Linked DNA regions of Homo sapiens: region 2 is linked to region 1. Evidence: fine-mapped expression QTL. Tissue or cell type: skeletal muscle. Region 1 holds a variant in brackets; the other region holds the start of a gene. All regions are shown on one strand. Distances are from middle to middle.

The links. PIP is the estimated chance that this variant, and not a neighbour inherited with it, causes the effect.
Region 2: HK2-DT starts here. The variant in region 1 is fine-mapped to the expression of HK2-DT in skeletal muscle (GTEx, PIP 0.95).

The regions. Positions count from the first base shown.
Region 1 is chr2:75,782,417-75,793,414 of GRCh38, forward strand. No RefSeq gene overlaps it. Among named protein-coding and RNA genes, the nearest start is that of GCFC2, 77 kb to the left of the region's middle. The variant C/T (reference allele first, on the strand shown) is at 5,127.
Region 2 is chr2:74,829,079-74,840,076 of GRCh38, forward strand. HK2-DT (HK2 divergent transcript) reads right to left here and starts at 4,909. Exons shown (of 1, transcript NR_185897.1): 1 at 3,577-4,909. It overlaps HK2 (hexokinase 2), which reads left to right and starts at 5,049. Exons shown (of 18, transcript NM_000189.5): 1 at 5,049-5,565. The coding sequence starts at 5,503. RefSeq lists silencers at 4,541-4,610, 4,791-5,020, 5,941-6,190, 8,129-8,286 and enhancers at 5,767-6,643, 6,421-6,490, 7,803-8,318.

The DNA of each region.
Region 1 (10,998 bases):
AGGCCTCAGGAAACTTATAATCATGGTGGAAGGGGAAGCAAACACATCCTTCTTCACAAGGTAGCAGGAGAGAGAAGTGCTGAGCAAAAGGGGGAAAACCCCTTATAAAACCAACAGATCTCGTGAGAATTCACTATCATGAGAATAGCAGCATGGGGGTAACTGCCCCCATTATTCAATTACCTCCCACTGGGTCCCTCCCACAACATGTGGGGATTATGGGAACTACAAGTCAAGAAGAGATTTGGGTGGGGACACAGCCAAATGATATCAGTAGCCATGTTAGAATAAATGTATCATTGTGATCTGTGAATCATAGAATTTTTGAGACAACTAAAAAGTGAAAAATTCATTTAACTAACTAACTATATATATATATGTATATATATATATTTTTTTTTTGAGATGAAGTCTTGCTCTTTCACCCAGGCCAAGCTATAGTGGCGCTATCTTGGCTCACTGAAAGCTCCGCCTCCCGGGTTCACGCCATTCTCCTGCCTCAGCCTCCCAAGTAGCTGGGACTACAGGCGCCTGCCACCACGCCCGGCTAATTTTTTGTATTTTTAGGAGAGACGGGGTTTCACTGTGTTAGCCAGGATGGTCTTGATCTCCTGACCTCGTGATCCATCCGCCTTGGCCTCCCAAAGTGCTGGGATTACAGGCATGAGCCACCGCGCCCGGCCTTAACTAACTATATATTTTTTGAACACAAGAACCACTGGCTTTATTCTTCTCTCCACACCCCATCAATGAAATAAACCAAATGCATTTTTTTTTTTTGGTGCTGTTGATAATACTATTTGGACTGGGTTGTGTCTACTCCTTAGATATTATATGTGACAGAAGTGAGTTGAAACAAAACAACAAACTGTATTTAATTTAATTTGATGCAGTTTCTTTCCAAATAAAAGTTCATCTTTCTTCTTTACAATTGACACTGGTGATTTCTTGTCTTTGAATTCAATTACACTGTAAGAGCAGAACTTTTAGCAAATGAAGCCACAGAGATGACCCAGAAATTTCAATTAGTTCATCAGTCTAGATACCAGTGTAACTGGCCTATTGAACAGTCTGAACTTGTCAATGTACAATAATGAAAAAATTTTTTCCATCCATTGCTTTTAATCATGCTCGGTTGCATCTCCCTTTCTTTCTTCTTAACTAGCTCTTGGGCATGAGTAGATATTAAAACTCAATCTCTAATCAACTCTAATCTCGTCTTCTCCCTGATTCCTGTCACATGCCTTATCTATGGCTGGGTGGATTTGTAATGGGGGAAGCTCCTTCACTTCTACCAGCTACTATAGGTTGGGGCAATGCAGAGGTAACAGAGAAAGGGGCAGAGAACTTTATACTTACTAATTCACCATTGTAATCCTTTCTTATACACTGCAGCTTCCCCAGCCAGCAATGGGCAGTTAGTCCCTTCTCTGTGTAAATATGTAGGTGTTCTTCTCTCTAGGGACTTAAGCATGGTTCTTTCAAGGCCCTTGCAGGAAGGCCTCCAAACTGCATAGTTGCCACTACAGACCTCTGGCTTCTCCTCTTCTACCCCATTTCCCTGTCCCTGCCTCTCAGCCGTCACCCTGTAGTCTCTTGTTTCTTGATTCTACTTGTCTAATACTAAGGCAGTTCAGGCACAGCTACCTTGAATATATACCCACCTGATCCAATGGGACTGACACAGCTTTGCTATGACAAAAGGTGGGACTATAAGCCTTCCTCTTGTCATTCCCATTTTGTCCTGCCACATCTCACCAACTCCCATCTCCTCTAGCTCAAATAGGCACAGGAGGGCTTATGAGCAAGTCTGAATCAAAAGCTACTTTATTTTATTTTATTTTTTTGTGGGAGACCGGAGTTTTATTATTATTCACAACAGTCTCTCGAGCATTCAGGAAGCAGAGTTTTTAAGGATAATTTGGTCGATGAAGGGAAGCCAGTGAGCCACGAGTGCTGATTGGGCAGAGATGAAATCATAGGGAATTGAGGCTGTCTTCTTGCGCTGAGTCAGTTCCTGGGTGGGGGCCACAAGATCAGATGAGCCAGTTTATTGATCTGGGTGGTGCCAGCTGATCCATCAAGTGCAGGGGATGCAAAGTATCTCAAGCACTGATCTTAGGAGCAGTTTAGGGAGGGTCAGAATCTTGCAGCCTCCAGCTGCATGACTGCTAAACCATCATTTCTAATTTTGTGGCTAATATTAGTCCTACAAAGGCAGTCTAGTCTCCAGGCAAGAAGGAGGTCTGCTTTGGGAAAGGGCTGTTACCATCCAAAAGCTATTTTATAATGACATGTCTGTCTGCCCTTCCTGTTGGCTCTACATCTCTGTGAGTATCTCGGTGCCTTCCTTGGTAGTTTGGGGCAGGTGGGAATCCTCCTCATTCCATTCTATGGGATAAGAAGAAAAACCTGACACTCTCCTCTCTAGATTGACTACTCTCACCGCTGATGATTTTTTTGGGTCCTGTCCTAGTCGTTTGGTAATAGCTACAGGAAATGAGGATGGCAGGTGGAGGATAAACGGTCATGTGGCTGCCTCTTGGTCTGCCTGGGATGTGTCCAGTACCAGTGAGTAGTGGTATCTCTGGATATTTGCTTCTAGTTGTCTATGTCCCTATGATTTGATAATGATAAATGGTTCTATTAGCTTGTACCATATGAATACCACTTTTTTTCTAAACCAAAAATGGTCAAATATGGGCAGTTTCATATTTGAGGTGGATTTAGTCATCCTTCACCAATCCTGTTGTTTTGTTTGAGTTCAGAGTTGAAAATCCCCTCTGACAGTTTTGGGGTAAAGAATTGGGAGTTTCAGCCATGGCTCCTGATTACTATTCTGGTTTAATAATTGGGCAAAGTTATTGAGCCTCCCCTAGTTATTGAAGGGAACTTCAACAGGAATGAAAAAGCAAACTTCAGATATGAGAGTTTTTCTTTTTCTTAGATTTAAAGTGGAACTTGTCAATTTGGGAATTATTTTTGGTACATGTTTTAAAATATTTTATTTTCTTATTAAAAACAATAAAAATTCTAATTGTTATCCAGAAAATAACAATGTAAGACCTGAGAAACCTGATGGGAGTTTAGAAAATTTGTCAATAATAGTAGTCCCAGCTACTCAGGAGGCTGAGTCAGGAGAATCACTTGAACCTGGGAGGCGGAGGTTGCAGTGAGCTGAGATTGCGCCACTGCACTCTCCAGCCTGGGCGACAGAACGAGACTCTGTCAAAAAAAAAAAAAAGAAAAAAAAAGTGTATTTCCCTCTATTGAGTGAATTCAGCTAGAATGTTCTAGAATTACATTGTTTTCCCATTATTGTTACCAGACAGCCATGTCCATGGAAACACCAATTTGTGGGACATAGTTATTTCCACCAGGTTGTTACAGAAGTAAAACAGTCTCAGGAACAAAAGGCCCTTTTGTACCCATATGAAAGGGAGAGAGAACATAATTTTAATATTGGGTATTTATCAGAATTACATGCATGTAGGGTAGCACGAAAGTGATTACAAAGTCTGGACAGAATTTGATACGAACTTATGTAGGAAGGTGGAAGATAGAACAACTAACACTTCTCTTGAGAGACCAGAGGATGCACTTGTGATTGCCTTATGTATCCCTTGTGGGAGACCCCTGAACCAATTATGGAGCCAGTTTTACATGTTAAAAAGCCCACATATTTGCACTGTAAAATTATTAATAAAAGGCTGAGCCTTTAAATCAGGCCTATCGTATGTTCAAGGAGACATCCTAAAGAGGAGAGGGTGGGTAGGCAGCAGCCTCCCTCTTTAAAGAAAATGTCACGGTTGTACCTTTATGAGGTACTTTTAAGAGTGTTAATTAATGGCTACAATTCTAGTCACCACTTTGTTGTTGTGTATCACAAAACTTCAACACATTCACATCCTTTGACCCAGTAGTTCAAGTTCTAGAAATCAATTTGTAATAAATATTTACATTTGCCTTATTTGTATACAAGGAAGTTCATCTCAGAATTATTTAGATATGAGTAAGAATTTAGAAACAATCTGATGTCTATGAATAAGTGTTGGTTAAATTAAACTTGGTGCATCTTCCCATGTCATCAACTATATTCACTGTAAATTTAATGACCTGGGAAGATGCTCAAAATATATTATTAGGTGAAAAAAAATCACGACAAAACCTTACATATATATGATCCCAATCTTCATACCTAGACATGTACCAGAAAAATACCCAAAGGATTTTAATAGGGCTTGTGTCTACAGGATGTATGAGGATAACTTATATTCTACTTTTTACTTTTGTCTATATTTTTCATTTATATTTATAAAAATTTATATTAAGAAAAATGAATGCTATAAAAAACAAAATGAATTGTAAGCTAGCATTTAATAGTAGCTGCTGTTCGAGTATATTTAATCATTTATAATGAAAATTTCTTTTGGACTTGCCATTTGTGCTGTAGAAGAACATCTGTTTTAATATTTTCCTGGCTGTATTTCATTTGTACATATTTTCTCTAAGTACTTGGAGTCTACTTTTCTAAGTGTGTTTCTGCCATAATCCCTTTGATCTTGAAGAAGCAGCATCAGGCCTGGAGCTGGAAATTCAAATAATAACTCCAAACCTGTTAGGATTTGGTGAGAAGTCTGTAGAAACATTTCTTAATTTTTTCTCATCCTGGCTTGTCTGTCATTGCACAGATAATGGACAGAGGAACCAAAATCATATGACTATTCAGACAGATTCAATCCCTAAAAAGGAGTAGATGCTGAAGGGCCTAAGTGGGTGGAGGAAGGGAAGGGAGGATCAGTCTTTCCAATATCCCTCCTCTCCAAGGAAGAGGATGCAAGGAAAGACTCTTTGTCCCTCTGTAGAGGGAAATCCTGAGTTGTTCTTCTTCTCTGTAAGGGAAGAAGTGGGTAGAGTTATCAAAGCAAATAGAAAACGCTGATGGAAGATACGCAGAGGAGTTAAGCAGCTTTAAGTTTTAAAAACCTGTCTTTCAAATTAAAAAATTATGCAGAATGCTTTAATTTATTTCTAATATGTAATTGAAAATCTCTAATTGTAAAGATCTTGAAAATGCTTTTTGATTGAGAAGTTACAAGATTTTCAAAAGAATGCTTAAATTAATA[C/T]GCAGGATTATTTGAAAAAAGTACTTAAATACTCTGAATATTGGTAACCACATATAGCAGATATAGTGATTTCTCAGGTAGAGAGATTATTCCATCATCTGCAGACCATCTATTTCCCCAAATATCCTTAAGTTAAATTTCATTATATTATTAACATCTGAAGATCTACCACTAGATGGCACTTAAAATACACGAGACTCGGAGGAATGCTTCAAATGAGGGGCGAGGAAAGACACAGGACAGAAATACAACTTGAGTTCTCAGAACAGTGTTATCTACTTGCAGGAAAGGAAGAAAAGCAGGCCCAAGATTATTCTGAGACAATTGGAGGGTAAGATTCTGAAAATGAACCTATAAGTGTTAGAATGTTTCTCTTTAAACATAATTTCCCTTCACCTAAATTGCTATTGATTAGCAGGTTTTTAGCATTAAGACAACAGGCTGTTGGACTAATGAGAGTTTGGTAAACAGTGAAGGGCTGTGTTCTCTCTGAAGAGGTTTGGAGTATGCACCAGGAATCAAAATGTGGGGCTTTAATCCCAGCTCGGTGTCTGCTCTGTTGTTTGGCACTGGGCTAACTGCTCTTTTTCACCTGTGGTTAATTTGATTTGTGCACCTCTTATACATCAGGGGAGAAAAATCCAGTATAAGGACATTGTGATGCACAAAACTGAGCAGCAGAATGTAAGAACTGATTTCAGGAACATGGCAGCAGGTGGCCAGTCTCACTGGATGTGGCAATCGGATATGGATGAAGTGGCAGGTACACTTGGAGGAGTGGTAGGTGTTCATTTTTAGCCAAGGCATTATGCAACGCCATCAGGGAAAAAGCACAGGCAAGTAAACAACAGCCAGACCTGCAGTACTAGGCACCAGGCAGCGTGTGCAGTCAGAACACACAGGGAGGAACGATGGGTGGATCAGTGTGAGGGATCTGGTTCAGGCTCTATAGCCAATCACCAGAGTGACCTTGGACACACAGGGAGGAAAGATGGCTGGATCAGTGTGAGGGATCTGGTTCAGGCTCTATAGCTAATCACCAGAGTGACCTTGGACACACAGGGAGGAACGATGGCTGGATCAGTGTGAGGGATCTGGTTCAGGCTCTATAGCCAATCACAAGAGTGACTTTGGACATGCTAAGATGTCTCTGGGCCTCTGTTTCCTCACTTAAAAATGGGAGAGTTTAGCTTACATGATTTCTGAAATCCCTTGTAAAGCTTTTAGATCCTATCAGGACATAATTGTCAATTTTTTGGATGTGGGCATAGCAGAGATTTTATCATCCTCCCTGTTTTCTAGAACAGGACATGGAGGCTGAGAAAGCTGGTAAATGTCCTGGCTTCAACTCTAGACATCGTCTATTCTTGCTGCCCTGCAGTGTGACCTGGACTGTATCAGCTTCATTTGGACATCTGTAGGAAATGCAGCCTCTCAGGCCTCACCCTGGACCTTGCGATTCAGAATCTACATTTTTAATAAGACTGCCAGGTGATTCATATGTACATTAAAGTTGAGAGGCACCAGGCTGTACTATACTGTCTGAGCAAGCCCCAGGCTGCTGGCCACAGGAGAGCTCATCTTACAGCTAAGATATGTTTCCTTTTCTTTCTCATATGAGGACATCATTTAACTGAGGGGTGGGATTTATCCATTCCTTCAACAAATATTTGTTAAGTAACCACTATGACTCAGTCACTGTTACCCTCTGGCATAACAGAAAGGAACAAGAATGTGATCTCTGTCCTTGGAGAGGAGTAAAGAAATTACTTGTAGGGGTCCTTCTTCTTTCTCTTCCTCTCTTTCTGTCTTCTATGTCAGGTTAGAATTGTAGGTGGCAAGATGAGGCCTGCAGTCTTCAATAGGCTTTGGTTGAGGATGTTTTTTTAACTTCTAAAAATCTAAGACAAGGTTTCTGACAGTAAACATGATTGAAATTTTGGACCAGATAATTCTTTGTTGTGGGGAATTGTTTTGTGTTTCTCGTAGGACATCTAGCAGCATCTCTGGCTTCTAAAGACACCAGCAGTAATCCCTGAGTTGTGACAACCAATAACGTCTGCAGACATTGGAAATGTCCCTGGAGACTTTATCACCCCCAGTTGAGAACTAGTGAGAGGATCCAGGGTATAGTCCAGAGGAGAGGCCATCAGAGCCATTTAAGTCTGATTGCATATGAAGTTTTCAGAAAAAGGGGTAAACGGGAACTTGAGCTTTCTCTGTCATTGTCAATCCCTTTCTCCGTAGTAAGGAAGTAGAGGTGGGTTTCAGGGCAGAACATCTATTTAGAATTAAGTAGTAACATTGTATTTAAAGTTTGTTTAGAATTGTTTCTTACAGAAATGAGGTAGAAGAGCAGAAATCTCTCTTACAGTTTCTATACTCAAAGCACTCTCTGAAATAAATTAGAATTGTTTCTCTGGACAGCCAAGATTTACTCACCCCTCCTGGTGTTTTTTGTTTGCTTTCTTTTTTAAGGTGACAAGACTTAAGTAGAGAAATACTGTGTTTCACATTTTGAGCCAACCAGATAGTCTATAGATACATTTTGTAGTCCATTGTAGATCCCCAAACAACCAGACACCTTTTTCTTCTTTGGAATCAGTAGGATTTAAATAATATGCCTGGAAGACTTCTGAGCCACTAGCATCTTCAAGTTCCTGGCTAAATTTACAGGTGAGAGAGGACATACTTCTGAAGTGATTCTAGCGCAAATAAATACCTCTGGAGTGAAAAGAGAGCATTTCTCTTGGACAAAAGCCAAAGCTGAACAGTCATACAAACCCTCTGTGTTCCTGAGTCACGAGTGGAGGGAGATGTGACCTTTCCACAGTTCTGTGTAAATTTCAGAAGGCTAGTCTGTCTTGACTCGATTGTAGCTTGACCTCTGTCCTGTAGGAGCAAGAATTGACTTCCTGAAATCCCTCTTCAAATTAAAATCTGCTCTCTTGACTCATTTGTTTAACCCCTATGACATATGTTAAAGCTGTGGACTTAAAATGCTGGAGAGGGGCTGGAGCAGCAGGAAAGTCTCTGGGTCCCACACAGCCTTTCTCGCGACTGGCAATGTGAAGTGTATTATTGAAAAAGGCTGGCAGCTCAAGGCATTGTTTGGCTTCCTACCTTGGCAACAGCAAGCAGCAAACTGTAGAGAAGTTTCCCCCTAATCTGCTGGCAGCTTCTACACTGGTGAAATGCAATATGTAGTTTGCAGCACACTGATCCCTAAGAAGTGAATAATTTACTTGAAGTAATTTTGCTGCTACCATGTTTTCAGACATCTTTGCCAACTGTGGAGAACATAGTCTGTTTTGACAATCACCAATAACCAATTTTCCCTGGGGGCAATTAGGGTAAGGCCTTGGGGTGCCCAGGTGAGGGTGCTAAATGCAAATTCACCCCACAGGCAAATTGCAGTGTCTGACTTCCTTGCTACTCAAAGTGGACTGAGAACAATGACAGCAGCACATGGAGGCTTGTTAAAGGTGCAGAATCTTGGGCCTGCCCCAAACCTACTGAACCAGAATTTGCATCTTAACAAGGTCCCCAGGTAATTCATATACATGCTTAAATTTGAAAAGCAATGCTGTTTTAGGTCAGCAGTTCTTAACCTTGCCTGAACTTTAGAATTACTTGGGGAATTTTGAGATATCCTGATGCCCAGGCTAAAATCTAGACTAGCGGTTTTCAACTGGGGATGATTTTGCTCCCTAGGGGACATTAGGTGACATCTGTGGACAATTTTGACTGTCACAAGTGTAAGGGTGCTACTGACTTCTAGTGGGTACAGGCCAGGATATGGCCAAGCATCTTGCAATACAGTGGACAGCCCCTCACAACAAAAAATTATCTGGACCAAAATGGCAGTAGTGGCAGCACAGAGAAGCCATTTTCCAGACCAATTAGATGAGAATCTCTGGGGGTGGGAACCCGTAACCATGTGGGAACCAGTAACTATGGTTTTTTGTTTGTTTGTTTGTTTGTTTGTTTGTTTTAATTTGAGATGTAGTCTTGCTCTTTTGCCCAGGCTGGAGTGCAGTAGCAGGATCTCGGCTCACTGCAACTTCCACCTCCTGGGTTCAAGTGATTCTCCTGCCTCAGCCTCACAAGCAGCTGGGACTACAGCTGCGTGCCACCACACCCAGCTAATTTTTGTATTTTTGGTAGAGACAGGATTTCACCATATTGGCCAGGCTGGTCTCAAACTCCTGACCTCGTAATCCATCTGCCTCAGCCTCCCAAAGTGCTGGGATTACAGGCGTGAGCCACCGCACTGGGCCGTAAACAAGTATTTTTTAAAAAATACTTCCCAAGTAATTCCAATGTGCAGTCAAGGTTGAGAACCACTGATAGATTTGTTGCTAGAGAGCTATCAAGACAAGGAGTTTGGATTTTATAGGTCCAGAAAGATAACTTGGTTCCAGAATATGGGGTAAGTTGAACTATGGTGGGTGACCAGTGCGTCAGCTGTGGAAGAAGGAGGACTATGGGACAGGGACGCAGATGGGACTAGTCAGGAATCACCAAATTGGCCCTTAAATAAGCAGGTTCAGAGACCTCCTGTAAATCCAGCAGGGAACTAAAGGGTGTAAATGAATACCTGGGGTAAAAGTCTAGTCATAGGCACTTTCGCAGTGACTTATTTCTGTGCAACAAACCACTCCAAAACTTAGTGGCTTAAACAATTTTTATCATTTATTACAGTACTTTCTGTTGCTTGACTAGGTTCAGCTGGATGGTTCTCACTTAGGGCCTCTCATGTGGGTGCCATCAGGTGTTGCCTGAGGCTGCAGTGTCCTGAAGGCTTGTCTGTGCTGGACATCTGTGATGGCTCACTCACGTGGCTGGTGGTTGATGTTGGCTGTTGGCTGAGGACTTAGCTCAGTGCTTAGTGAGGCTATTGACTGAAACACTGCCCATGGCTTCTCCGTGTGCGTTGGGCTTCTCTCACTATGACAGCTGGGTTCCCAGAGGGAGCATCCCAAGAGGCCAGAACAGATGCTCCTAGGCCTCTTATGATCGCGCCTCAGAAGTCCCTCTGGGTAACCTCCACTGCATTCTATTGCTCTAAGCAGTTCCAAGTCCACCCAGATTCAAGGAGGTTGTGAAATAGACACTTCATCTCTTTTTTTTTTTTTTTTTTTTTTTTTTTTTGAGATGGAATCTTGCTCTGTCGCCCAGGCTGGAGTGCTGTGGCGTGATCTCGGCTCACTGCAAGCTCCACCTCCTGGGTTCACGTCATTTTCCTGCCTCAGCCTCCCGAGTAGCTGGGATTACAGGTGCCTGCCTCCACACCCAGCTAATTTTTTGTATTTTCAGTAGAGACAGGGTTTCACCTTGTTAGCCAGGATGGTCTCGATCTCCTGACCTCGTGATCGGCCTGCCTGGGCCTCCCAAAGTGCTAGGATTACAGGCGTGAGCCACCGCTCCCAGCCCTGAAATAGACTTCATCTCTTAATGGAGGAGGGGCAGAAGAACATGTGGGATGGGAGATGTTGCTGAAGCCCTCTTTGTAAAATACCATCTGCCATAATAAGGGCCAGGCAATGAAAGGATAGGTTAGGGGAAGGCTGCTACTCCAAGAAATCTATAATGATTGGGAGTTTCCTGCTAGAATGCAGATTCAAGGCATCTCCACCCATGCTGGAGAGGGCTCTGGTAGCGGAGAAACCTACTTTGCAGATGAAACATTTTCCTCACATGCAGCTGGAGGGAGTGGGGAAAACAGTGGCACCAAAATACAAATAAGCAAAGTAGATGCTAAGCTCATGAGGATTCAGAATAGATGGTCATTTATAATTTTCCTTGAGTTTAAATCATGCACAATGATACTTATGTAGGAATAAGTCTCTATCTAGATCATCAGCACTCG
Region 2 (10,998 bases), 950 kb before region 1:
TTACATGACCATCTGTCTCTTCAATTTTCAACATCTCTGTGTGTGCATGTGTGTACATGTGCACGTATGTATAAGAGAGATCTGAGATTCAATAAATAATAAACTTGAGGAATGGAGTTCAGAGGCAGAAGAACCACAGAAACAAGTCAGCCTTATGTGGGTAGCCTCCCCTCCGTTTGTTGTGTATCAATTGGGGTTAATAACAATTTTTTTTTTTTGAGACCTGTCTCGCTCTGTCCCCTAGGCTGAAGTGCAGTGGCATGATCTCTGCTCACTGCAAGCTCCGCCTCCCGGGTTCACGCCATTCTCCGGCCTCAGCCTCCTGAGTAGCTGTGACTACAGGCGCCCACCACCATACCCGGCTATTTTTTCTGTATTTTTAGTAGAGATGGGGTTTCACCGTGTTAGCCAGGATGGTCTCGATCTCCTGATCTCATGATCCGCCCACCTCGGCCTCTCAAAGTGCTGGGATTACAGGCATGAGCCACTGTGCCTGGCCTATAACAATACTGATTCCAACCACCTCCCAGGATTACTGGGAACTTTGTAAGAGATAACATGTACTTAAAGTTCCTTATGATTATTATCCGGTTCACATGAAATGGGACCACAGAGGGGAGTGGAGAAGAGGCATTAAAACTAGTGTGTGAAGAAAGTATCATAGCTGACCCAACCCCACTGGCTTTGGTTCTACCTGCCTGGAGACAATACATTTTGTAGCACCAGGCTATTGAATTTCCATCCGATTCTAGGCAGCAGGCATCCTCCTCTTCATTTTCCTTCACCCACCCCAGCCAAATCCATCAGTTCCACCTCTGACTTCACAATACCTAAACCCATAACCTTCCTCCCTGCCCCACTCTCATCTTGGCTTAGGTCCTAGTCTTACCTTATAGCTTCTGCCTCTTTCTGCCTTTGGTCTCTGACCTCTTTCCCTCCCCATCCACATGGAGGGCAGTTATGGCCCTAAAAAAGCAAACGCGATTGTATAATTTCCTGCTTTGAGAATCTTGGGGCCAGGTGTGGTGCCTCATGTCTATAATCCCAGCACTTTGGGAAGCTGAGATGGGCGATCACTTGAGGTTAGGAGTTTGAGACCAGCCTGGCCAACATGTCAAAACCCTGTCTCTACTAAAAATATAAAAATTAGCTGGACATGGTGGTGAGTGCCTATAATTTCAGCTATTTGGGAGGCTGAGGCAGGAGAATCGCTTGAACCCAGGAGGCGGAGGTGGCAGTGAGCCGAGATTGTGCCACTGCACCCCAGCCTGGGCGATAGAGCAAGACCCTATCTAAAAAAAACAAAAAACAAACAACAAACAAACAAAGAATCTTTGTTAAATATCTAAGTCTATATATTTATGGTGTCTATATCTGAAGAGGGAAGCCCAGTTATGAGGCTGTTCCAGTCAGGTGAGAGATAACTGGGCATATGATCTAGGGTAGACAGAGAAATGGGAAAAGATTTGGGAAATAATATATAAAACTATAAACTCTATGTGTGTGTGTATTGTTACACAACATGTGAACAGTAGTCATCTCTAAGATTCTTCTATGAATTCATTCAATAAATGTTTATTGCATGTCTGCCATGCGTCAGGCACCATTTTAGGCACTGCAAACTTGAAGGAATGACAGACACAGACCCTGCTGTCTTTTAGCTTATCATCTATTGAGGAGAGGAAGAACATAGCGAAAATAAATAGGAAATCAACTAGGGCCAAGTGATAGTGACTTGGGGAACTATTTGAGATAAACTGGTCAAGGAAAGCCTGATGAGGTAGAAGGTGGGGACTTGACTCTGGAGGTGGGGGCTAAGACTCGGGACCAGACTCTAGATTAGAGTTCCAGATTTAACACCTAGAAGTCACTGCCCCTTTCCATGGCAATGACTCAACAACCCGTTACCAACCTTTTTCTAGAAATTTCTGTATAACCTGCCCCTTAATTTGCATGTTAACTAAAAGTGGGTAGAAATATGAGTGCAGAGCTGCCTCTGAGCTGCTACTCTGGGCACACGGCCTTATGGGGTAGCCCTGCTCTGCAAAGACCAGTGCCTCTGCTCCTGATGTACACTGCCACTTCAATATAAGCTGCTGTCTAATGCCACCTGCTTGCCCTTGAATTTTTTTTTTTTTTTGAAATGGAGTCTCTTTCTGTTGCCCAGGCTGGAGTGCAGTGGCGCGATCTCGGCTCACTGCAAGCTCCGCCTCCCGGGTTCACGCCATTCTCCTGCCTCAGCCTCCCGAGTAGCTGGGACTACAGGAGCCCGCCACCACGCCTAATTTTTTGTATTTTTTTTTTTTTTAGTAGAGATGGGGTTTCACCGTGTTAGCTAGGATGGTCTCGATCTCCTGACCTCGTGATCCGTCCACCTCAGCCTCCCAAAGTGCTGGGATTACAGGTGTGAGCCACCGCGCCCGGCATCCCTTGAATTCTTTACTGGGTGAAGCCAAAAATCTTCCCAGGCTAAGTCCAAATTTTGGGGCCTGCCTGCCCTGCATCATGAGGAGGTATCTGAGTGGAACGTCAATGAGGAGGAAGAATGAGTTGGAGACAGGCCTGGAGAAGAATATTCTAGATAGAAGGAAAAGGAAGAGCAAAGACCCTTGGGTGAGAAAGAGTTTGTATTTTTGAGGAAAGCATGCTAGTGTGAATGCCAAGCAGTATTCTGTGGGAAGATCTCAGGAGGTGTCTAAGGGCATGGAGATAAGTGGTCAGATGCACGGTCTGTTTTATAGGTGGAATTAACTGCTTGCTGATGGATTGACTGGCTGTGAGGGTGAGTGGCAAGAAGGAATCGAAGACGAGTTAGGGTGGATGGCGATGCCATTTGCTGAGACAACTGGGAAAGAAAAAGATTTGGGAAAAAAAGTTGAGTTCAGCTTTGGACATGTTAAGTGTGATATGCTAGTCACTTCAGTGGAGATGACAAATGGCAAGCTGGAGAAATAAGCCTGCAACTCCAGGAGAGGACCTCGCTGTAGATTTACTATGGTGAGTCATCAGCATGCATATGATATAACAGTCATGGGGCTAGGAAGTTAGTTTCTCCTCAGGGAGTTTGAAACTGTAACTAGTTCAGAGAAGAGGGTGGAGGGCAGCCCCGAATACCCCAGCATTTACCAATAGAGCAAACAGGGACTCAGGAGCCTGGGGAGTGAGGTTAGCCAGAAACCCTCAGAGTGGAGCACTGGTGCTCTTACTGAGAGAGGAAGGTGTGTCCAGATGGAGGATGTGATTAACTGTCCTCAACATCCCTGAGAGAAGGAGTAAGACAAGGGCAGGGAAGAGAAGAGAATGCAAGATTTGGCAACATGTAGGTCATTATGATGACTATGACAAAAGCAGTTTGAGCTCAATTCTGTGTGGAGTATAGGGAAGGAGGGTTGAGGACGTGCATTTAGAAGGGTACATAGTTCTCAAGAAGTTTTGCTGAGCACATCTGTAATCCCAGCTATTTGGGACGCTGAAGTGGGAGGACTGCTTGAGCCCAGGAGTTCAAGACCAGCCTGGGCAACATATCGAGTCCCTGCTTTAAAAAAAAAAAAAAGGAAGTTTTGCTGAGAGGCTAGATGGATTATGATTTTTGTTTATTTTTCCTGTTTATCCATATATTATTTTTCAACAATGAGTATTGATTACTTATATAATAATTTTAAGGCTGTACACATTGCAGACAGCACCCCACTGTTTGAAAAACTCCTCCTCAGTAGAACATGGCAGACCTTCATCTTCCTTCCCTGAACCTTTTCCAACCTTAGGCTTGCCATTCTCCACCAGTGCTAATGTCATGTCTCTTGAAATCTGTATTGAAGTCAGTATTTCATTCTTGCCAGTTTCCACTGTGTGTTTAAATTTGGAGTCTGGTGTCTAGCATTAGCTGGGGTTGGAGCTTCCACTCCTCTCAGCATTGGTAAGCCTCCTCACCCACCCCATCCCATGTCCAAGATCACCCAGTTACACACTTACCATCTACCCAGTTCATTCACATCATCAGTCCCAGAGCTGCAGAGATGCTCTTTTTCTACCTCCTACTTCTCTGGCTCTTAGAGAGGCAGCATGGGATAATGGGGCAAGCGAATAGGGCCTTAAAGTAGAGGGACAAGGGTTCTCTTCCCTATCTGCCACTTATTAGCTATGTGACCTCGTGTAAGTCTCTTTTCTTTTTGAGACAGGGTCTCCCTCTGTCACCTAGGCTGGAGTACAGTGGTATGATCATAGCTCACTGCAGCCTCGAACTCCTGGGCTCAAGCTATCCTTCCACCTTAGCCTTCTGAGCAGCAGGGACTACAGGCACATGCCACCATGTCCGGCTGATTTATTTATTTTTATTTGGGAAGATGGGGGTCTCACTATGTCGCCCAGGCTGGTCATGAACTCCTGGTCTCAAGCAACCCTCCAACCTTGGACTCCCAAAGTGCTGGGATTACAGGTGTGAGCCCTGGCCTTGCCTCAATTTCCTCATCTGTAAAACGGGGTTAGTGAAACTCACATCCTATCAGTGGTTTTGAGGATGGGCCGACTCTTGTATTGCCTGCTCTAGTACAATCAGCAGCTAAGGCGGCTCACTTTCCGGCCGTGCTACAATAGGTAAGAACTAGGATGCTTTAGACGTGTGACTGGGCAGTGGGAGCCCCTCACATGATCCCGAGATGCCAGACAGTGTCTCTCCGCACAGGGCGTGTGCTGGTCCAGAGGCCCGTTTTTCCAGTCGCCCCACACCCCGGGTCCGCGATCACGCTCCCCCCACCCATAGCCGAGCCTGACGCGGCGGTGGCTCATGCGCCTTTCCGTCCCAGCCTTTAGCCACGGACCACACGTCCCATCTCAGGCGCCCCGCCCCTCCCCCGCCCCCCGCCCCCGGCGCGCCTCCCCAGGCTGCCGGCTCCGGTGTCTGAGCGGCCGCGCCCGCGAGCCGTGAGCGATGATTGGCTGCGCCACGGCGGCGGGCGGTCCGTGGGCGCACACACCCTCCCCGCGCAGCCAATGGGCGTGCGCACGTCACTGATCCGGAGGCCCGCGGGCCGGCAGCCCCTCAATAAGCCACATTGTTGCATGAAACTCCGGCGCAGGAGTCCCGGGCTGCCGCTGGCAACATCGTGTCACCCAGCTAAGAAAATCCGCGGGCCCGAGCCACGCGCCTGTGAATCGGAGAGGTCCCACTGCCCGAGTGGAGCCGGGCTGAGATTCTTCTCAAGTTGAGCCTCAGTGATCCTGTGGCCGAAGTTAGCGCCTTGACGTGGGACAACCGGACACGTCGCCAGGAGAGAACTGAGGCGCCTTCTAGCAGTTGTGACGCCAAAATCACGTCTCCGGAGACCCGCGCCCTCCGCCAGCCGGGCGCACCCTCGCCGGTAGCCTTCTTTGTGCGCCGTCCGGACTCCCAGCTCCCGGCCCGGCAGCCGAGCCCCAGCACAAAGCAGTCGGACCGCGCCGCCCGCCTCCCCTCTCGCGTCTCCGCCTCGGTTTCCCAACTCTGCGCCGTCGGGCCGCGGCAGGATGATTGCCTCGCATCTGCTTGCCTACTTCTTCACGGAGCTCAACCATGACCAAGTGCAGAAGGTAAGTCAGCGCGGGCGGGGCGGCAGGCTGGGCTCTGGCAAAGTGGTCTGGCCTCCATCAGTCTCTTCCTCGACCCTGCGGGGACCCGCTTCCTCCCTACTCCGGGCCTGGGAGCGGAAAAAGTTTGGGCAGCCGGGACACTCCTGGGCGCCAGGAGCCACGTCCGCTAAGCACAGCCGGCGAGTGCGCGCGGGCGGGGAGCCGAGGTCGCGCTCCGCCGGGCGCCCTCCCTCCCTGAGCTCCGGCACGCGCTCACGCTCTCTCCCCCAGTCCCTTTTTCCCTGTTACTGGAGGGGCGGGTCACCCCGCAGGTAGTCAGGGATTGCTGCGCCCACGTGGGAGGGAGCCCCCTTCTGCAGCGCGAGTTCCGGCGAGAGCACGTGGAGAGAATCGTGGCTGCGGGAGGCTGCTCCGCTGCCGCGTGGGGCCGCCGGGGGCCGTCCGCGCTCGCGGACCGCGTGTAGGAGACGAGCGGTTCCCTTCTCCTTCCCCGCGGCCCTGCGGGGGTGGGCTCGAGGAGAAGCTGACCCGGGAAGGAGTAGGAAAGGGGCAGAGGAACTCCGCCCGCCGCGCCCCCTCCCCGGAACTGTGGCGCCCGGAACTGAGGCTCGGCGAGGGGCGTCCCCCATTAACCCCCGCCCCTCCAAATCAGCCTCGGGACCGCCCAGCCTCGTGTCCTCAGGATCTGCCTCTGAGTAAGGGGAGGACTTTGGTTGTTACTTTCTGGTTTGCCCTAAAAGTTACTCGGAGAGGCCAACGCGCCGCGTTCCTGGATTACTTGAGATTCTTGAGATTTATGTCCTTCCGAAAACGAGCTTTTTTTTCCTTAAGCCTCGACCTGTCTGTTCCCACCTGGCTCCGCAGCTCCCTATGGCTGAGCGCTCACCGCGGCCGGGTCATTTACATAAGAAAGAGCCTCAGGCCAAGCCGGGAAGCTCTCATTCCCCGCCTCGGGGTATGGGGGTGGGGATGGGGCCGGGGCCGGGGACGGGCAGGGCCAGGGGCGCGCTCAGAATTGAGTTTCTGAAATGCCCGGGATTAGGGGATTGGCTCCTGGCCCGGGCCTGGGCTACGATTTGAGGTAGGGGACAAGTTGGGAGGGGATTAGCTGGAGGGAGGTTGTTTTAAGAGCTGTGAGGCAACGGAGCGTTGCTCAGTTACATACTTGGAATTTCAATATCTGATGGGAACACATTTTTGGGAAAATGTCTTGCCATTACCGTTCTGTGCGACAACCTGCTCATATTCCCATTCTGGCGGTCCCGAGGGCATAGGAGGCATATTAATGTAGTGATGGCGCGTGAACCTCCAAGAAAAGCAGAAGTTACCCAGCCTCAAGTCTGGAGGAGCGAGCAGAGGCGGTTGATTTACTTGGGTTTTACTGTTTGTAAATGGCTGTTATTCTCTAATTCCTGGGATGTGGCTCTGCACCTTGATTCAGTTTACTTAAAAACGTGCCTTTGATTTGAGCTGGCAGGATCTTGGTAACTTCTCAACTTCTAAGAACTCTTGGGGAAGGCTATCATCTCTTGGCAAGTCCTAAAATACACAGTGGAGCGTCATTAATCTCAGGGAGTTCTCCTTTGGGTATTACCCCAGGACATTTGAATCCTTGCATAAATTTACTCTTCCTCAATCCAGAGGAGGGCACCAGGGTTGGAACCCCGTTGGAGTTATACCACTCTCAATCTTGGAATGGGGGTCATCTCTCTTCCCCCAGAGTGGAACGGGAATTAACCAGGGTATCTGGAAATGAGTTGTAATCTCTGTCTTGTGGTTTATTAACCATAGCACCCTGAGCCTCTTTGGACAGCCCGTTTCTCTTTGTGAAATGCAATAATAACAGTAGGCTTGTCCACTTTATGGAGTTGCGATTATTAAGCGCTGCAGTGTGCAACTGTCATTCCTGTAGGTTTTCTCTACCCTTGCAGCCACCTGTCAGTTTGAGAAGTGTCCCTGAAGACCCTTGGGTGTATTTCCTCTAAACTACCAATAGGGGCAGAATTGAATCAGGCCTTTAACTCAGTAATTGTCAGAACCTGGGATTTGACTCCCAGCTTAGGTGAGCGAAGCTGTTTGATTCCAGTGGCAGTTACATAGAAAGCAGAGACTCAGAGTATCTTGGAACCATCTTTCTGAGCTGCCATTGGAAAGAAGAATTAAGAGAGAAGAATGAAAATTTAGTATAACTTTAGAGTCTTTTGAAAAGACCTTTTGATTTGGACCCTTCTGAAATCCCCTTGTGATAAGATAATCTTACATATTCTGGGTTGTAGTCTGAGGACGTGGAAGGCTTGGGTTCACCTGCCCAACGAGGTCACTTGTCGTCTCCTGATGGACAAGCCCAGTGTTTTGGGGCATTAGAGATGAGAATCAGGGTTATTTCCTCACTTTTGCCAATTGGAACTCAGGAGCGACTGCAGAGCACCTACTGTGTACCTGGCACTGTTCTAAGCTCTTAGGTATGTCAGCTTATTAACATTCAAATCAGCCCCATGAGGTGAAGACTGATTGTTATTAGCATCCCTGTTTAACTGAGGCCCAGGGGTAACTTGCCCAAGGTCTCCAGCTTTTCTGTACGAGCTGGGAATCGAAGCCATGCATTTGGCTTTAGAGCACCATGCTCTTGAGCACATACTTGCCTGTCTCTGGGGAATGTGAGCGGGCTCCTGGCCCGGGCCTCTGCCCACTCCTGGCTGCTGGTAGCACCCCCACCCATCATGACCACAGATGGAACTAGCTCTTCTGTTGGTTTGATCAGTGGCACCAGTACCCTCTGGCTACTCCAGCTGAGAGTCCTGGATTCATTTTCATCAACTCTCTAACTCTGTCAACTGGTCTCTTGGTTACTTTGGAGGCCTGCTAAGGGTGTCCCTAAAACTCTTTCTGGAGCCAGACTGGATCATTTCAGGAGCTCTCTACAGCTCTTAATTGCCTCCCGCTTCTACCCCCCAGCTTAGCCTCATCTTCCTCTCCATCCTTTCATTCCTCTGTCCTGCCTGTTCACACTAGGTCCTTTTGCCCTTGTCTTTTTTTTTTTTTTTTTTTTTTGAGACACAGTTTCACTCTGTCACCAGGCTGGAGTGCAGTGGCGCTATCTCTGCTTAGTGCAACCTCTGCCTCCCAGGTTCAAGCGATTCTCCTGCCTCAGCCTCCTGAGTAGTTGGGATTACAGGCGTGCGCCACCATGCCCAGCTATTTTTTGTATTTTTAGTAGAGACAGGGTTTCACCATGTTGGCCAGGATGGTCTCGATCTCCTTACCTTGTGATCCACCTGCCTCAGCCTCCCGTAGTGTTGGGATTACAGGCGTGAGCCACCGCACGAGGCCTGCCCTTGCCATTTTTGTGGCCCTGAACTCTGCTTGGCTTCTTTCCACTTAACCCCTTCCAGCTCAAATGCAGTTTACTGTCTTAATTTTCTTTCTGCTTCCTTCTCCCCCTCCTGTGTGCCAACATTAGTGTGTTTGAACCTTGCATGACATTTGTTTCATTCCACCATCTGTTAGAGTTGATGGTTTTCAGTTTGGGTTCCTTCCTCAGGGCAGGGAGAATCTTGGCTGTTAGGTTTGTCGCTGCAGTTCCTGGCCACTGGTGAGGTGCTCAGTGAGTACAAGAGTAAAGGAGGAGACCTTTCTGGAGAAAGAAGCTAAACCAGGGCTGCAGGAAGTGGAGGAGCTGGGCAGGGCCAGCTAGTCTTAGGCTAAAGGGATGGTATATGGGTGGACACTTGGAGGGGTAGTTCGCAGTTATCTCTTCATCCAAAGCATGACCTGAGGCCAAAGCATGACCTGAGGCCGGTCCTGAGGAGGGAGAGAGAAAGGGAGGAGAGTTTCCTGTCCTTCAGCAATCAAGACTGTGTGTCCTGCCTATGGAGAGATGGAAGATTCTTTCTATTTTTTTTTTTTTTTTTTTGAGACGGAGTCTCGCTCTGTCGCCCAGGCTGGAGTGCAGTGGCGCAATCTCAGCTCACTGCAAACTCCACCTCCCGGGTTCACGCCATTCTCCTGCCTCAGCCTCCCGAGTAGCTGGGACTACAGGCGCCTGCCACCATGCCCGGGTATTTTTTTGTATTTTTAGTAGAGACGAGGTTTCACCGTGTTATCCAGGATGGTCTCAATCTCCTGACCTCGTGATCTGCCTGACTCCGCCTCCCAAAGTGGTGGGATTACAGGAGTGAGCCACCGCGCCTGGCTGATTCTTTCTATTGATTGAGATAAGTTAGTATACAAGATGCAGGATTTTGTCATTTAAGAATGGAGAATCAGGGTTAACCATAGAGATAAAATGAAGTATATACTCCTTTCTCTGACCATTGACCAAATTGTTTTAATACGCATAGACTGGTGACATTTGCACTGGAATCCTGTAATAGACATAGCTCATGTAGATTCCTTGTTGTATGAGCAAGGGGTGACCTTCAATGCTGGGCTTGAGAGGAATATCTTGGAAGCGAAAAGATTGAACAGAGACCCCAAGAGTCAAGAAAGCCAAGAATTTTAATGTTTTTTTAAGAACCTACAGTGAGTGCAAGGCCCTCTGAGTGTGATATGGGAGACAGAAACCCAGATACTTTTCAGTTGTCTAGAGAGATATGGCTGCTAGGTCAAAAGAGTGAATTACCATGGGTGGGGCTGGAGTTAGAGCCTCAAGGAACCTTGGCACATTTTGGACACCTACCACGTGCCATTAGTCCGCACGTATGGGATTAGAGTATCAAGAGTAAATTGCTGATTGAAACCTTAATAATATTATTTTTGTCTATGTTAATTTTGATTGGACAAACTGACATTGACAGGTACAATTCACTCCATTTGTTCAATATGTAACATCTTGGTAACCTAACTCTGTCCCTTTCTCTGCTCAGAAGACAACTGATGGTAGTTAGGAATACTTTGTAGCTTTTGTTAACCATCCGTTTGTTTTATATTGCCAAACTTACATTTCAGAGAGAGCTAAGAAGCACTTTTTCCTCTACCTTTGAATGAATTAACTCCCCTGAGCTCAGCCAAAGTCAATTTTTTTTTTTTTTTGTGAGACAGAGTTTCGCTCTGTCACCAGGCTGGAGTGCAGTGGCACAATCTTGGCTCACTGCAACCTCCACCTCCTGGGTTCAAGTGATTCTCCTACCTCAGTCTCCCAAGTAGCTGGGACTACAGGTGCGCACCACCATGCCCAGCTAATTTTTTTTTAGTAGAGATGGGGTTTCACCATGTTGACCAGGATGGTCTCGATCTCTTGACCTCGTGATCTGCCCACTTTGGCCTCCCAAAGTGCTGGGATTACAGGCGTGAGCCACTGCGCCTGGCCTTTTTTTTTTTTTTTTTTTTTTGAGATGGAGTCTCACTCTGTCGCCCAGGCTGGAGTACAGTGGCGTGATCTCAGCTCACTGCAACCTCGGCCTCCTGGGTTCCTGCCGTTCGCCTGCCTCAGCC